Linked DNA regions of Homo sapiens: region 1 is linked to region 2. The links come from fine-mapping of genetic effects on gene expression. A gene starts in region 2. The other region holds a variant in brackets. All regions are shown on one strand. Distances are from middle to middle.

What was found.
Region 1: its variant is fine-mapped to the expression of ARMC2-AS1 in blood mononuclear cells (TOPMed, PIP 0.96).

The regions. Positions count from the first base shown.
Region 1 is chr6:108,123,622-108,132,714 of GRCh38, forward strand. It overlaps OSTM1-AS1 (OSTM1 antisense RNA 1), which reads left to right and starts at 12. Exons shown (of 2, transcript NR_145458.1): 1 at 12-154. All of the region lies in intron 1 of LOC124901368 (a long non-coding RNA gene), which reads right to left. The variant T/C (reference allele first, on the strand shown) is at 3,575.
Region 2 is chr6:108,920,154-108,929,246 of GRCh38, forward strand. ARMC2-AS1 (ARMC2 antisense RNA 1) reads right to left here and starts at 3,950. Exons shown (of 3, transcript NR_104137.1): 1 at 3,908-3,950; 2 at 2,822-2,891. ARMC2 (armadillo repeat containing 2) reads left to right here. Exons shown (of 18, transcript NM_032131.6): 11 at 7,935-8,080. RefSeq lists an enhancer at 382-1,292.

The DNA.
Region 1 (9,093 bases), 800 kb before region 2:
GAACCACTCATGGCAAGACGGGGGCCCACCGGCCTGCTGGCTCCTCACCAAACTCTACTCCGCATTGACTGTGGGCTCTTGTTCTAGAGGCACCCGCATCCTCAGGATGAAATGTGAGTACAAGAGCAGAGACTGCCGGTGCTGGTGTTTGCAGGTATGTGTGTGTGTGTGTGTGTGCACGTGCGTGTCCACAGCAATTAGCCTCTGATACACATAGTGGGAGAAAAGAATCCCCAAAGAGGAAATAAACAAGTCTTTTTGTTTAAGTTTCTACATCCGAATCAAATTCTTCTTTAAAAACTATCTCTACATTTCCACTCAAGGACAGAAAGGAGAGAGACACAGGCTTCTTACCCTTGTAGCGCCTTCATCTGAAGAGATTTTTAAGCTCAAAGAGCAGATGTAGAAGCTAATGTTTGTAAAACCTGATGAACTGTCAGCGAGCCACCACCCTGCCAGGGAGAGCTCCGGGAGCACAAGGGGGGTGCCTGCCTGGGGTGGGGATTGTCTGGCAAGCCTGTCCTCCCTGTGGAGCTGGTTTCCTGTCCCCGGGCTGAGCAGATGCCCAGCCAGAGGCCTGAGGTCTCAGAGGCTATCATGGGAATGAGTGCGTCCTTAGAAACCTTTCACTCCAACCTGATGTAGGTAGTGCTAAATCCTTTCCTGAGCCCCACACAACAAAAGCTAGGGATTCGAGCTCATGCTTCACGGATCCCTTAGCCACTAGGAATGCATGTTGCTTCAGCTCAGTGGCAGCTAGTGCAATCCTAAGTGATTTCAGTCAAGGGTTCTAGACTTTTTGTTCATGTTTTCTCTCACTCAATTGCTCCCAGAGACTATCTCTTTCTCAGCAAATGGGGTCACTCATTTTCATAGTAAACTTTGGTGATTGGGGTGCAGAGAGGTGGAGGGGGGAGTTGATAAGTAGATGGGGGAGTACAAACAAGGTCTGGAGGAATTTCTCAGGGGTGGGGGGAAAACAGTAGCTGTAGAAGAAAGGACTGAGAGCCTCAGAGATCTCTGGCCAATCCCTGGAGAAGTGGATCCCAACATGGCCTGCAGACTAAACCGTGGGCCCTGTGAGAGCTAAGCCACACTCGTGTGTTGCCACCGGATGAAAGGTGGAGGAGGCAGAAACCTAAACAAGTGAATTCAATTACATCTGAAAAAGATTAGGCTAAATTAGGATTCATTCCTTGGGCCAGTTCCAGGAAATATTTGTGAAAAGTTGGTTGAAAGAATACTACCATCTAAACCCTAATTTTGCTATTACGTAAAAGCCCCGATTCCTTTGCAGTAAAACATTAGAAAATGTTTTCCTCATTTTGTTTTTGCTACTGGTGTGTGACCTCTTAATTTAATTTTGGTTTTTGCTCATATAAATCAATGGCCGTGGAAACTTTTTCCTGTGGTGCAGCAAAGACAGGGGAAAAGTAGAACATCAGTAATTATATTTTAGGCACTTAATTTATTTAATGAGCAGTTATCAAGCACCCTTAATGGTTCCAGCCATAAACTATAGGATATCATCCTTTACGTTAGAGGATATCAGCCTGCTTCAGAGAACCTTCATGTGTGTCTCCGAGATGCAGAAAGAAGGAGCGTGTTCTTAGGTGAGACATTAGTGGACTGAGGTTAGAATTCATCAGCCTGATGCCCTGATAATTTCCTGCTGCCTTCTGCCTCTGCTGTGCCCGCAGTTGGAGCCCAATCAGTGATGCCACTGCCCAATTTGCCCAAATAGCCAGCCAGTGGGAATAAAGACCCAAACATCTCATATTTTTAAAATTAATTTTTTACCTTTCTGTCACCTGCCTGAACTGGTAAAGAAAATGTTTCTCAGGTTTCTTCAATTCCTCTTCTCAAGGAGAGCTGTTAACCCTTTGAGGGAACTCACATATCTATGGGATATGTTATACATTTGGAATGTTTTACACTTGGGAACAAAAACTAAATTAGGCAGATAGCTCAGATTTAGAATACAGTACATGCATTTTTTGGTCATGTGCCATTTCATGGTGGATGGAATTCATGGCTGCAGCTTACAGTTATATAGGTTCCACACTGCACTGTGCTGGAGGGAAACATTCACACAGACTATGGGTGGACAGAATTGTGTCTTCTGCTCATGGGGGTAGGAGGTGAGGACGGAGGGGTCACTCCCATCCTTTATTTCAGCAACTTAAGAAAACTGTGATAGATGTTGAAAGTAGTGTACTTATTTGGGATGAAATAACAACTTTTTTTTTTTTTTGAGATGGAGTTTCATTCTTGTTGCCCAGGTTGGACTGCAATGGTACCATATTGGCTCACTACAACCTCTTCCTCCTGGGTTCAACTCAGCCTCCCAAGTAGCTGGGATTGCAGGCACCTGCCATCACGCCTGGCTAATTTTTTGTATTTTTGTTAGGGGCAGGGTTTCACTATGTTGGCCAGGCTGGTCTCAAACTCCTAACCTCAAGTGACCCACCTGCCTTGGCCTCCCAAAGTGCTGGGATTACAGACATGAGCTACCGCACCCTGCCTGAAATAACAATTTTAAAGTTCTAGACTCAGGTAACTTGAGTTCAAACTGCCTCTGCCATATTGCTTAACCTCTCCATTTCTTATCTATAAAATGACAGATAGATAACATTAAATAATAAGAGTAACCACTCATAGGTTTATGAGGATTAAATGAGTTGATATATGTAAAGATCTTAGAATAGTGTCTGGCACATAGTAATTGCTCAGTTAATATTAGCTATTGTTATCATTATTCTTTGATGTGTTGGAAAAGCATTTCCCTCCTATTGTGGGAAGAAATAGGAAAACAAAGTTCCCACTGTTCTGTTTGACTATAGGCCCTGCATGGCTAGGCAGGAAGAGGAAAGGCACTCAAGTAGGACAGAACTGGGTTTATTTCTGTTGTAACCACCTATTGTGATCTTGGCCACATCCTCTACAAGCTGCAATTTCTTCAAATGCAGATTGAGAATAGTAATAGTATCTACCTTGCAAAGTTGTTATGAGAATTAACGACAAAATATGGAAAGTGCCCAACACAGTGCCTGACCCTTCATAGGCTCTCAAAAATATTTGTTACTGTCAGATTGAAGTTAAACCAAGACATGGCATTTGGATACTGTTAGAAAAAAAAAAAAAAAAAAAGCAGGATCACTGAGAATATTCTAGCCTCAGTGACAAAAGAAGAAAAAACAAGCTTTCCAACTCCCAGCCAGGAACAGTGATCTGAAAATCTTGATGTGGGGTTTGTGTTCAGTCCCCAGCCCTTTTTTGGACTGCCAGACCCTCGTGTTTGTCCTGCTTTCCCCACTTCTTTCTAGTCCTGGTCAGAAGTGATGTTGGAAGGGACTGAGAAAACCCATGAGGGAGAGGTGAAGCATCTCCCCAGTGCCTTTTTAATGTATGAGGGTGCTTCAATTACCAGATTGTCAGCTCCATGAGGGCAGGGACCATGTTTGTTCCTGTTCAACAACATACTCCTTGGTAAATATTTGTTGAATAAGTTAAAAAAGTAGAATACATTATTAATGACTGTATTGTATAGTAGCAGCTTGACTGTATTGTATAG[T/C]AGCAGCTCAGTTAAACCTGAACTCAATGAACTGAACGCTCAATTTACTTTTTTTTTTTCTACATCTCACTTTGTGAAAGAAAGTGCTAACAGGACAAGCTCATATGAGGAATTTAGTATCAAGAAAACTAATCACAGTTTTTCAAAGTATGATCTGGGATTTGTACAGATTCAGCCCAATTTCCTAAACCTTGTGCATGGAGCTCATTAGCACTGCAGAAATCATTCAACAAACATTTATAGAGCAAGTCCTATGTACCAGTGGTCCCCAACCTTTTTGGCAACCTTTTTGGCATGGACCAATTTCATAGAAGACAATTTTTCCACAGACAGGTGTGGAGGGATGGTTTTGGGATGAAACTGTTCCACCTCAGATCACCAGACATTAGATTCTCATAAGGAGCGGGCAACCTAGATCCCTCGCCTATGCAGTTCACAATAGGCTTTGCACTTTTATGAGAATCGAATGCTGCCGCTGATATGACAGGAGGCGGAGCTCAGGTGGTAATGCTCACTCACCTTCTGCTCACCTCCTGCTGTGTGGCCCAGTTCCTAACAGGCCATGGACCAGTACTTGTCCATGGCCTGGGGGTTGGGGACCCCTGGTATATGCCAAAGACTAAAATAACAACATAACTTTCAATTTACTAATTACTTTCACATATAAATTTAAAGTAATTATCCCTGACGAAAAGGACAAGCATGACCACCTTCATTTTCCCTCCCCATAGTAGGAAAGCAGGACTCAAAAAGGTTCAGTGACATGCCTGAGGCTCCTCTGATGTCACCGCTGGGCTGAGGCATGCTCTGACCCATAAACCCAGTTCTGTTTTAATTTCTTCCTGTGATCCCTTCCATGGGAACTGCTGTTTAAACTCATGACTCACACATCACCAGGAGAACACAAATATTGTCACTATGTTTACAAAGAGAGAAAAGTAAATATTTTAGAAACACTTTTGGGTACTGTTGTTTTTCTTTTCTTTTTTTAAGAAAAAAGCATTTTCTGGTTAACTTGAAGGTTTCATCAGAAAATAAAATGAATCAGATTACTTCATTCCCCAGTGTACCCATTAATCCAAATTTGAATCTAGTTATTTAGGATTTAAAATAGAAAAAAAAAAAGGTATATTTGGCTGTTTCTAACAATCTGAATAGGAATTTTCAGCATGAATTTCCTCAGTAGATGCTTGGTAACTTAAACCCCTTGCCAGGTCCATCCCTGACTGTTGTGGCTGAGAGAGCTATTGTGCAGAGGGAGTGGGCACATCTGCCCAGGTGGTAAGCTAACACAAGAAGCTACAGGGCCACAGAGAGGAAAGAGAGAGAGGGAGAGAGAGAGAAATACCTACAATTTCCCAAAACGCTCTGCTATATTTCCCGTTTCCACTCAGTAACCACCATCCCTTATCCCAATACATAAGGAAGTTAGAAGAGGTCTCTTACCCTTTGATATGGTTTGGCAGTGTCCCCACCCAAATCTCATCTTGAATTGTAACTCCCACAATTCCCATGTGCTATGGGAGGAACCTGGTGGGAGGTGATTGAATCACAGGGGCGGGTCTTTCCCGTGCTGTTCTCATGATAGTGAGTGGGTCTCAAGAGATCTGATGGTTTAAAAATGGGAGTTTCTCTGCAAAAGCTCTTTTTTCTCTTGTATGTTGCCACGTGAGACATGCCTTTCACCTTCTGCCATGAGAGTAAGGCTTCCCCAGCCACATGGAACTGTAAATCCATTAACCCTCTTTCTTTTGTAAATAGCCCAGTCTTAGGTATGTCTTTATCAGCAGCAGGAAAATGGACTAATACTCCCTTACAATACAATTTGCTCTGATTAGGATAGTTAGGATAAAGGTCACCCTCAGGATGACTTGGATGGGAAAGATGGAGGGTTCGTTTGATCAGAAAGCCTGGGGGAAATGGCAATGCAGGCCAGGTTTGACTTGCATCCTTCAATCTCCCATCGCCCTCCCTAACCTGCTTCCTAGCCACTTCTCCCGTGGTCTCCCTTACCCATGCTGTCCTTCGCTCCTGAAAGTTTGTAACCACTACACACTTCCTGGGCCTGTCCCTTTTGGAAGTGCCTCAGGCTTCAAAATTACTGTCACAACCAGCTTTTTAGTTGAGTATTAAGATTATCTGACCAAGTTAACTCATTCTAACATGAATGATCACTAGAGAAGACGCAATTCAAAAGAAGGTCTTCGTAACCTAAAGGAAGCTCTAATTTGTGGATTTCATGGGGGAAATGTTACAGGGGCCCATGGCCAGGGTGGGGGTGAGTTACCTGGGTCAGGTGCTTACCTCTGGTCAATAAACTGAGGGCACCAGGAGCATGTGGCCCACAGGGCAGCTGGACCAGTGGGCCAGGGTGGGTTATTTTAAAAGGGAATATGGGTTGGGGCAGTGATTGGTATCACCTTTGTATGATTCTTATATTAGTCTGCTCAGGCTGCCATAATAAGATACCATAGACTAGGTGAGTTAAACAACAGAAATTCATTTTCTCACAGTTCTGGAGTCTGAGAATTACAAAATCAAAGTGCTGCTTGATTTGGTTTCTGGTGAGGGCCCTCTTCCTGGCTTGCAAGTGGCTGCCTTCTCTGTGTCTTCACATGGCAGAGACAGAAAGAGCTCAAGTGTCTCTTCCTCTTCTTTTAAGGGCACAAGTCCTATTGAATTACAGCCCCACCCTTATGAGCTAATTTAACCTTTATCACCTTCTTACAGACCCTGTCTCCAAATACAGGCACATGGGGGTTTAGGGCTTTAACAAGTGAGTTTTGAGGGAACACACATATCCAGTCCATAACATTCTGCCTCCTGGTCCCCCCAAATTCATATCCTTCTCACATGCAAATACATGCATTCTACCCCAATAGCCCCCAAAGTTTTAACTAATTCCAGCATCAACTCAAAGTTTCAGGTCCAAAATCTCATCTAAATATCACCTAAATCAGATATGGGTGAGACTCAATGTATGATTCATCCTGAAGCAAAATTCCTCTTCAGCTAGCAACCCATAAAACCAGAAAAATCATATGCTTCCAAACTACAATGGTGGGACAGGCATAGGGTTGACATTCCCATTCTAAAAGGGAGAAAGAGCAAAAAAGGAAAGGGTGATAGGTCTCAAGAAAGTCCAAAACCTGGAAAGGCAACTTCCATTAGATGGTAAGGCTTGAGAATAATTCTTCAGCTCAGAGGGTGCCCCACCTCTCCAGCTCTTGAGAAAGGCCCTGCACATATGGCTGTCTTCAAGGGCTCTGCCTTCTGAAACTGAGGAGAAAATAGTCTTGCCTCTGGGCTTGTGGTGGGAGTGACAGCCTTGGTGATCTCTGAACTGGCTTCAGGTCACTTTTCTCTTTCTTAAAGGATAGCTCATGTTCACAGCCTTCCTTCATTCTGGCCAGTTTTCTCCCAGCTAGTGAAGTTTTGCTGGTATAATCCTACCTCCATTCCTGGCTTCTGCTGAGATGGCTGATTAGATCGTAGTTCACATCCACATTAACCTCATTATTAAATAGTCACTCAGCCACACCCTTAGTGTTCTCTTCAGAACATGATTCCTCATTTTTTTGCAATATGAATAGGCTAAGAATTTTCCACATCTTCAAGTTCTGATGTCTTTTCGTTTAACAATTCCTTCTTCAATTTATCGCTGCCCTCTTGCATTTTACTATAAGCAGTAAGGCAGACCCACGCCTCACTTTCAATACCTTGCTTGGAAATCTTCTCTGCTAAATATCCAATTTTATTGCTCACAAGTTCTACCTTCCACAAAACACTAGAACGCAGCCCAGCAAAGTTCGTTTTCCCTTTACAACAAAGAGCACCTTTTCTCTAGTTTCCAATAATTGTTCATCATTTCTGTCTGAGACCTTACCAGATTGGCGAGGTCTACGTTTCTACCAACATTCTGCTCATTGCTATTTATGTGTATTCTCTAAGAAAATGAAGGCTTTCTCTCCAACTCTCTTCTCTTTCCGAGTCTTCACCAGAACTGTCTTTAAAGTCCATATTTCGGCCAGCCGTGGTGGCTCACGCCTGTAATCCCAGCACTTTGGAAGGCCAAGGCAGGCTGATCACTTGAGACCAGGAGTTCGAAACCAGCCTGGGCAACATGGCGAAACCCCATCTCTACCAAAAATACAAAATATAGCTGGGCGGGTGGTGCGCACCTATAGTCCCAGCTACTTGGGAGGCTGAGGCAAGAGAATTGCTTGAACCTGGGAGGCGGAGGGTGCAGTGAGCCGAGATCGTGCCATTGCACTCCAGCCTGGGCAACAGAGCAAGACTCTGTCTCAAAAAAAAATAAATAAATAAAGTCCATATTTCTATCAACAACCCCTCCTCAGCAATCTAGACATTTTCCAGCATGCACCTCAAAACTTCTTTAGCCTTGGTGGGGCACAGTGGCTCATACCAGTAATCCCAGCACTTTGGGAGGCTGAGGTGGTGGATCAGTTGAGGGCAGGAGTTGGAGAACAGCCTAGCCAACATGGTGAAACCCCGTCTCTACTAAAAATACAAAAATTAGCCAGGCACGATGGTGTGTGCCTGTAGTCCCAGCTACTCAGGAGGCTGAGATGGGAGGACGGCTTGAACCTGGGAGGCAGAGGTTGCAGTGAGCCGAGATCCTCTAGCCTGGGTGATGGAGAGAGACCCTCTCTAAAAAATAAAAAGAAATTAACTAGCATAGTTCTCATCTCATAAATCTCAACTACATAAATCACCTTAGATTTAGATATATAAGTGCACATTGGAGTCCCCTGAGGAAGCTTTAATAAACATACCATACTCTAGTTTCCCCCACCAGAAATTCTTATGTAATCAGTCTGAGGTGCAGCTCAGGTCTTGGGAGTTTTTTAAAGCCCATCAGGTAATTCTAATATGCTGTTTAGGGGCAGACATGGTACATCATCAAGCAAAGTTAGGGGGACAGAGGAGCTGGATGGGGCCACTTTATGTAGCTCAGCCCCAGAGCTACACCAATTGACTACTAACAGTCTCTTAGTTCAATTGGTTGAGGGCCTTTATACTCTTCTAGCTGTACCTGCAAAGGAATATAGAGCAATTTAGCAACATAGGTGTGCTAAGTACACATGCAATAAAACTGAAATCAAAGGCACAGAGCTTTCGGGGGAAATAGAGATTCTTTGGATATGGGAATGGTGGGGTTTTGTTTAAACTATGGTGTTGGTGACAAATAGAGCTCTGGCTTATGTTTCATAATGTATGTAGTTGTTTCCATGCACTTATCATCATTTAGCTGATTTTTTTTGTTTGTTTGTTTTTTGTTTTTGAGATGGAGTTTCGCTCTCGTTGCCCAGGCTGGAGTGCAATGGCTCTATCTTGGCTTACTGAAACCTCCGCCTCCCAGGTTCAAGTGATTCTCCTGCTCAGCCTCCCAAATAACTGGGATTACAGGCTAATTTTTGTGTTTCTAGTAGAGACGGGGTTTCACCATGTTGGCCAGGCTGGTCTTGAACTCCTGACCTCAGGTGATCCACTCCCCT
Region 2 (9,093 bases):
ACTACACTGGCTAATTTTTTATTTTGTTTTGTTTTGTTTTTGTTTTTGTTTTTAGAGATGGAGTCTTGCTCTGTCGCCCAGGCCAGAGTGCAGTGGCATGATCTCAGCTCACTGCAACCTCCACCTCCCGGGTTCAAGCAGTTCTCCTGCCTCAGCCTCCCAAGTAGATGGGATTACAGGCACGTGCCGCCACTTTTTTAATGATGTATTTGTTAATGGGAAGGAGACAGCTATTTTCTACTTATGGGGCTTCCTTCCTATAAAAGAATTGCCAGCAGCATAACTAACCACTCACGTGCCCAGTTGCCACGAGAGAGTAGGCATTTGGGGCCCAGGTTCTTCCTCTTCCCTTCTCTTCCCTTTCCTAGGAAGGAGCTGTCTATAGGCAACTCATGTTCTCCTCCAATTTTCCAGGGACAGCAGATCTGAAGATCTGAGAAGACTCAGAAACCTAAATATGTAATGCCTTGGGTTTTTTACTTGGAAATAAGAGGCTAAGGAGGCTGGGGATGGGGATAAAGTTATCACCGTGGTTGGAGGATGTGGCTGATAGCTGAGGCAGGCATGCTTTCTAATCCTGAGTCCTAGAATTAGATTTACCCACCCAGTCACAGACCATGTCTGTCCCTGGAGGAGCAGAACACCTTTGTTCTGATGGCAGCTCACTTCTAAAAGAGGAAGGGAAGAGAGGGACCAGGTAGGGGCTGGACTGGGAGGGTCTGATTCCTGTCCCAAGCTCACCAATCAGGAAGTGAGGGCGGTGGATGGCCAGGAGTGTTATGCTAAAAGACAGATCAAGGGTGGAAATGAGGCTCCTACTGTGTCTGAGGAGAGCCATTTGCTCTCAATTAGTGCTCTGTCTGCTCAGCCTCCTCTCTTCACTGTAGATCTATTAGTTGTGGCAGTAAGGAAATGTCACTAGCTTTAGCATATAATTGTGAATAGTGGTTTCATTGCTTGGTAGTTCTTAATGCACTATCTTTTTCAGACTCCTTTTTCTTGTTTTGCTGCATTGCCATTCTAGATTGTTTGTATGATATTCAAAATTTCTCCTGTATTGAATACATACATAGCCACAACTAGAAGAATCAGCTACCTACTCATTTTAGTGAAGTAACTGGCATAGAGGCAGTAAATGGAGAAACAACAATAAACAGAGCCAAATGTTAAATAGAGTCTCAAAGTAGGACATTGGAGGTTTAAGGAGGACAGAAGCATTTCCTGCTAAGTCGGACACCCATGGTAGGGATGTGCCAAGTAGGCCTGTGTAGCCAGGCACCGAGTGTTATCAAGGATTATTAATTAATATTACCTTCATATGCATATATCTTAATAAATTCCAAGAAAAGCTTAGACATGCATGTTACCAGTGATTTCACATGTCTAGCAGCATCTTGTCATTGGTTTCTTTTGTCTCAGCCAGAACTGTACAAATCATATATGAGACAATATGAAACTTCTTGGGTTACCACACAGGCTCTGGTTTTGGCATATATGTGGCCTCAATTGGGCACAAGTTCAAAGAAATGAATCTGCCTTTATTAATAGAGGGAGATGGCTTAGCTGAGGTTGGAAAATAGTGGCTTTAGTCATAAATCATTTCACACTGTTTGTGGTCTCTGGCGGCTGCGTTTATTCTTTTACATCATCAGTGGGAAGTCAACAATTTTGCAGTTGGCAGTTAAGTTGAGACAAAGCTCGAGGGATTTCAGTTGTGGATATTCCAGATGATTGCAAAATGCTTTTAGAGACCAGTGCCAAATAGAGTAGGGAGGCAATAGACCAAGAAACTGAGGCCAGGGCACTAGCCTACCTGGGAGCTGATAGACTTCTGAGCTTCAATGAGTCACAAGCTCCTCTGATCTGGGGCAGCTCTGATGGCAGGTTGCCTTCTAGAGCAGAATCTGGTGAGTTCCTTGAGGACAGAGTACTCTGATGGAGGAAGGGCACAGAGGGAAAAGAGAGGGCCGTCCACTCTGGACATGATCAGTGTGTGTGGAGGTTGCCCCACCTCGCACCCACCCACTGCAGTAGAGAACGCAGGAATGAGACCACAGCTGCTGGGCCTGTGTTGTGTCCTCAAGTCCAGTGATCCAAGTCCGGAGGGCCCCCCCACCCTTTTTTTTTTCTTGAGACAGAGTCTCACTGTGTCACTCAGGTTGGAGTGCGGTGGTGCGATCAAAGGCATGGCTCACTGCAGCCTCAGCCTCTGGGGTTCAGGCGATTCTCCTGCCTCAGCCATGAGAGTCGCTGGGATTACAGACCTGAGCCACTGGGCCCAGCCCCATATTTTAAGACAAATATTTCCTGTGTTTGCTAAGGTTTCTCAATTAATTAATAGTTGAAAACACAATTTGAAATTGATAATTAAGTACCTATAGTCAACTTGAAAAAAACAGAAGCTAAAGCTTTTGAGTTCTCATTTTACTGTATTAAAATGTAGTTGTGCATTTATAAATGATCTAATTTCTTCTTAGTACATTTTTTCCCTTTAAAATGGGTCTCCCAATACTGACTACACAATGAAAACTTTGAGGCTTACATAATTCAATGTGAGCTGGGTAGCTTTGCCAAGTCTCCAGGTGTTTTCCCTGACTGAGGGTGGTACCTGTTATGATCAAATAATTTGGGGAACATGGAAAGAAGCTTTCTCAGAAAAGTGAGCACCAGAAAGTTGTCAAGTGTAGCTCAGTCATTTTTCAGTAGTAGATTGGTAACCAGAAGCAAAATGGAATGTTTCTTCCTGGGTATTTACCAAAACCTTAGGTCCCCTTTTGTCCTAAACATCACCTAACAATTGCTAATAAGCAAGGAAACTTACATTTGTATTAGTCCTCTTTGTGGATTATCAGTGTCATTTTCTTCTCTTTTTTCTTCTTCCTATGGGCTGCCTTCAGGATTGCAAGTCCCACAGGATTGCAAGTTAAGAGATGGGGGAAAAGATAGGAATTAAAACTTGTGTTTTTCAGTGTGCTATTTCTTGGTGAAATGCTACTTAAGAGGTTGAGAATTTCTCTACTAAGTCCTTTAGAGACTAAACAAGACTTTTTTTAAGTAAGGGATTTGAGGTGGTTTGAAAGATTATATACAATAAAAAAGAAAAATGTGTGTTTAAGTTTGTGCATTTATAGATAATATAAATTAGAATAGAAAGTTAAGAAAGAAATGGATGCACACCTCCAAGCATGAAGCTTGGGCTTTGGTTAACTCCTGCTTTGGGGGAGGGCCCAGTGGGTGGGCTTTTCTTGAGGGTGGGAAATAAAGACCCTGCTGTAGAGCACAGAACTCATTGATAATTTTCACAGATTTATCTCTGTTCAACTGAGAGTTCTTGTTTTCTTTTTTTTAATTTTCACTTGTATATAATGAATTCAAAAGTAGGAGCAAAATTCAGTTAAATGGGTTGACTTGGAACTTGCCTTTACTGTGACCACATGATTTAGCTAGACTCTCCTCCCCACACCCTTTTTTTTTTTTTTTTCCTGCATTTTTTCCAGAAAAGGCCACTGGTCTGAGCATTCAGGGCCCCACCATCATCCCACAGTGAGATTGGTGGCTCTCAGAGGTTGGTGACAAGTCTCTCAAGATACAGGGCCTTCAGAGCTGCATCTGCGTGGTGGCCTTTTCCTGATCCTTCTCCCTCAGGGTTTTAGGCCCTGGTTCACCCAGGCCTCTGCTAAGCTCCCGCACTTTCTTGCCAGAGGTGTCTTAAAGGGAAAAACCTCTCTTTTGTCGCTCCTGTCCCTTCTTTCTTTCTTCCCCCTCCTCATTCCCCTCCTCCTTCCCCTTCTCATTCACTCTTCCAGCCCTCCAGTAGCTGAACATTTAAGAGCTTTTTATGAGCACATTTGTTGTCCTCTGAATAGAAAGAGGAATAAGAAGTGGTTTGTACCCTAGAGGAGCTCACCATGGGAGAGAAGATGCCTGAAGACAAGTGACAATGCTTCTGTGATGGGGGTTGTAGAGGCAGGAACAGGATGCTTTGGTAACACGGAAGAGGAAGGAGAGGAAGTGACTGATCAGCCTCGGAAAGGACTTCACAGAGAAGTTATCTTGAGCTGGGTTTTGAAAAATGAGCAGGAGGCCGGGCGCGGTGGATCATGTCTGTGATCCCAGCACTTTGGGAGGCCGAGGCGGGCGGATCACTTGAGGTCAGGAGTTCAAGACCAGCCTGGCCAACATGGCAAAACCCTGTCTCTACTAAAAATACAAAAATTAGCAGGGTGTGGTGGTGCTTGCCTGTAATCCCAGCTACTCGGGAGGCTGAGGCAGGAGAATCGCTTGAACCCAGGAGGCGGAGGTTGCAGTGAGCCGAGATCGAGACTCTGTCTCGAAAAAGAAAAAAGAAAAAAATGAGCAGGAGATGGCCCGGGGGAGAAGGGGTGGCAAAGTGTAATCGAGGGCACTCTGGGCGGAGGAAGCCGCCTATTCAAAGGCATGGCGTCATGAAGGGTTGAGGACCTCATGTGGTGCAGAGTCTGAAAGATGGCCAGGGTGGTGCCGAGGCAAAGGAGATGAGTTTGGAGGGATAAACCACACTTCAGAGACTGAGGAACCTTTAGGCTATGGGTGCTACTGGCTGGGCCGGAAGTCGCAGGAGGCCTTTGAGCAGGGAAGGCGGAGCTTTGAGATGCCCCCTCTGGCAGCAGTGAGCAGCTATGGGGGCAAACTGTGGAAGGAGCCCATCCAGGGGGCTGTAGAGTTTGGGTAAGAGATGAAGTGAGCTTAAACTGAACCAGTGACGCTGGTGATGGAGAGAAGGGGTGAACGTGTGACCAGTCAGGTGGGGAAAGGGGTGGGGCCCGGGAGTTTAGGAGCTTGGGAAGGAGCTGCTGTCAGAAATGAGATAGGCTAGAGAACAAATACACAGAGGCTGGTCCCCTTCCAGAGAGTTCATTTTTCTTTCATCCGTTATTTTTTATTCTGTGATGGATGGGGGTTATAGAGGCAGGAACAGGATGCTTTGTTAACACGGAAGAGGAAGCGACTGATCGGCCTCTGAAAGGTCTTAAACATAGACAAGTTAGCCTGAGCTGGGTAACTACAGAGTCCATTTTTCTTTCATCCATTATTTTTTACTCCTCTGCTTTCAAAAAAAATCTTAAAATCTGTCTACCTCAGAGATATTGTCTGCTTAGCCCATGGTGTTCTGATATCCCAGTCTTTCCTTTGTAGATGTCCACCCCTTCATTCATTCCATTAATAAATGCCTATTGAGCGCCCACCATGTACCAGGCACTGGACTTGGAGCTGGATGTACAATGGTGAAAAGGATGAACAAGGTTTATGCCTTCACTGAAGCGTCTAGTCTGGAGGAGTAGACAGATAGTAAACCATAATATTAAATAACCTAGCATTAAGTAGAGTTTATGGGGGCATATATGGTATGAGATGAAGCTTGACGGGTTGAGAAGGAACAGATCTGTTGAGCCTTGTAGACCATGGTCAGGGAACTGAATATTATCCTGGGAGCTATGGACAAAAAGCCAATATGGCTTGGAGTAACAGAAAGCAGAAAGGCAGGATTCTGGGATATCTCTGCTTGAGCAACTAGGTTGATGGTGTCATCTATTGAGCTATTGCTGTGTATTTTTCAAATGTATGGTATATGTTTCATGCATGTTATTTCTACCAGCACCACAAATGACAAATTTGGAAATACGTGAGGTATTGTATATTACTCAACTGTGTGTATCACGTGCAGTAAATGGGTAGGAATTTCAATCAAATGACATGTCACATATAAATGTGGGCTTTCTCTCCTGACTTGGGTTATTTATGAAAGTTATGTATGTGGGGCAGAAGAAACTTGAGCTGTCTAAACTTTTGCTAATGAGGTGAGAATAAGGCCTGAGAAGGAGAAAAAATTGAGATTGAAACAAGAAAATAAAAGCTCCTAAGGAAACTATGGTCCTTTCTGCTGGCAATGTCCCTTGCCAGAGCTTAGATGTGGGGAGCGTGAAGATGACTATGGATTGGGATGTCCCATCTTTGATGCCTTGGGGACCAGGGAAAAGGAACTGTTGGTGTGCAGTGACTGGAATGGGTATTTCATGGTTTCCCATGATGTCTGTCTGCATGGGAGTTACACAGGCATCTGTACTCTTCCGTCTCCATGGAAGAGAGTTTTGAGGCATCCTCTGAATTAATGTAAACCAGTAGTGCTCCGGTGCCTGGGCTGTCTCAGGAGAACAGGTGGAAACGGGGTCAGATGATGAGAATTTTCCATTTTATGACAGCAATGGAATTCCTAGAATGGTTCATTAGTCTTCACAAAAGATCTATTCCTGGCTGGGCGCAGTGGCTCACCCCTGTAATCCCAGCGCTTTGGGAGGCTGAGGTGCTTGGATCACTTGAGGCCAGGAGTTTGAGACCAGCCTGGCCAACATGGCGAAACCTTGTCTTTACTAAAAATACAAAAATTAGCCAGACATGGTGGCACGCACCTGTAATTCCAGCTACTTGGGAGGCTGAGGCACGACAATTGCTTGAATGGGGGAGGCAGAGGTTGCAGTGAGCTGAGATCCTGTCACTGAACTCCAGCCTGGATGACAAAGAGAGACTCTGTCTCCAAAAAAAAAAAGTCCATTCCTTAGCTTAGAAGAAGACTACATTGTGACATTGTTTAGATCTATGGAGTTAAGTGGAATACTCAAGTAGTTTGTTTCACTTCCAATGTTTGGGATACTGAAACTTTCAGGGAAGAATTTACAGAATCATTGTATAATTGAATTGATTACAAAAGACATGTACACATTTATTTGAAGCTTTTTTTTTTTTTTTTACATTTTCTGTGTTTTCAGGGTAGTCAGTTATATTTTAATGTATCTTTTTGTTGCTGTTGTTATAAGGAAAAACTAATCATGTCATCTTAAAAATTGTTTTTAAAAGTTTATATACTATGGCTGTAAGGATGCTTTATGTTTACATGATGCTTTACAGTATTAGATAAGTAATAAAAACAGTGCTACATGTTTCCATTTGCTACACACAACCCCCCGAGAGGTGAGCAGTGCTTGTCATCTGCTTTTCACAGATGAGGAAATGGGGAAGTGGAGGAAGGAGTGGCTGCCCCTGGGCACTTCACTAGGAAGAGATGATGGCAGCGATGCCATTCACACATCTTATCTCATAGAATCCTCACAACTGCTAGGGAAGTATCATCACCTCTACTTTATTGAATGAGAAAAATGAGCTCTGGGAGGTTAAATAACTAACCCAGGCTGATGGGTGGTGAGGCTGAACTGGCTCTTAACCAGTAGCTTTCCTGTAGTGTCCCACAAGGAAGGAGCACACTGCATATTAAAATTATTAGATAACAACATTAGTTTTATGATTTACTAAACTCTTCTCTTCTTGACTCTTTGACGAAGGTAAAGTAGATAGCTTTCCTGAATTTTTTTTTTAATAAAATAAGACAAATTTGTGAGATCTTAATACTTGTCTCTTGGGAGAGAATGAGACTAAAGATCTTAAATATTCCTTGGCCACATCATTCATTATCTGATGCTATTTATAAAAGCATAGAACAATCAGACAAGAATACCTATAAAATTAAAAAAAAAAAAGAAAGAAAAACATAGAACAAGAAGTTTCTAATCTGCAGAACTGATGTGGCTATCACAGGGCCAGCTGAAGATCTTAGGAGTGTTAGCAAACCTAGATGATGGTTTGTTTAACCCTGGGTTTGGGGTATACCAATTGCTTACTAAGATTAATATTTCATTCTTTACCTTTCAACCAAATTAGGCTTTCTTTGTTTTCATTTGTTGCTACTTGTGCCTAGGCTCACATTCCCTGGTGGGAGATGCATAGCGGGAGCTTTGCTTAGCTACTGATATAAGGAAATTTATGAAATGAATTGTACTATGCTGTTTCGTGTGGTTATATTTTTTCAGTTCAAAAAAAATGGCACAAGCATGCTTTTATCCTAGGTGACTGCTACATTGAGAAACTTGGTTGATTCATCATTAGTAAGAAGTAAGTTCCTAAACATCAGTGCCCTTCCCCAGCTCTGCACGGCAATGGAACAGTACAAGGGTGACAAGGACGTCTGTACCAATATTGCCAGAATATTCAGGTAGGTAGACTAAGACGTGAAGTAGCCTTACAAAAATGCTAATGCTTAGATTTGGGGTTATCTTTAATATTTGCTTGTGTGACTGGCAAGGAATCCTTTTCCTTCTTTTTACTTCGCCTACCAGAAAGGGTAAATCTAGTGGCCCAAGTTAAAAATGAACAATTCAAACAAATGAACCCATTGTCTATATGATTCTATTGTGATTCTAAACTCATTGGTTGTTAAGTCATTTTAGTTCTTTGGTGAGTTGTGAGCTACGTGTGTGTGTTTAATCTTCCTCTCAGCTTATTTGAGATAAAAAACTGTATACAAAACACAGCAAACCTTCCAGTTTGCTAGGAAATAAACAAGAGTTTTAACTCAAAAAAGGGGATCAATGCTTAGAAAGTCTGATGTGACTTTGTAATAGAAGGTTATTCTATTTCAGCTATTTGAACTTTGGCTCAAGCTTTCACTAGTCAAGTCTACACTTACTTTATTTCTTCCAGAAATAATGATCATTTGAATCCAGGTTGCCTCCAAGCAAGATGTTGTTAAATTTCAGAACTGTCTTTGAATTATGCATTTCTGTTTCCTCCCGCGCTGCTCTTTGTCAGTATTTTTACATAATGATTCTTCTCGGGAGCCTGAGGCTTTTCTTGAACTATAATGTTGTAGTTGTAAAGAAATGCAAAATTTCCTGAAGACTGAATTGGTACTTGACCCCAGGACCCCTGTATAAGGATGTGAGTCCAAATCTGATTTTTTTTTAAATGAATGTCAACTTGTATTATAGATTAAATGGTACACAGGTTTGTTACGTGGGTAAATTGTATGACGTGGAGGCTTGGGGTCTCGACAATCATGTTACCCAGGCAGTAAGCATAGTACCCAACAGGTGGTTCTTCAGCCCCAGCCCCCTCCTTCCCTCCAGATCTGATCTTTTTATACTGCACTTCCCTGAGCTTTGTTCTGGATACCTAATTACTACCTATCTAATGCATTGTAGAATCATAAGGAATTTATTTTTGTTT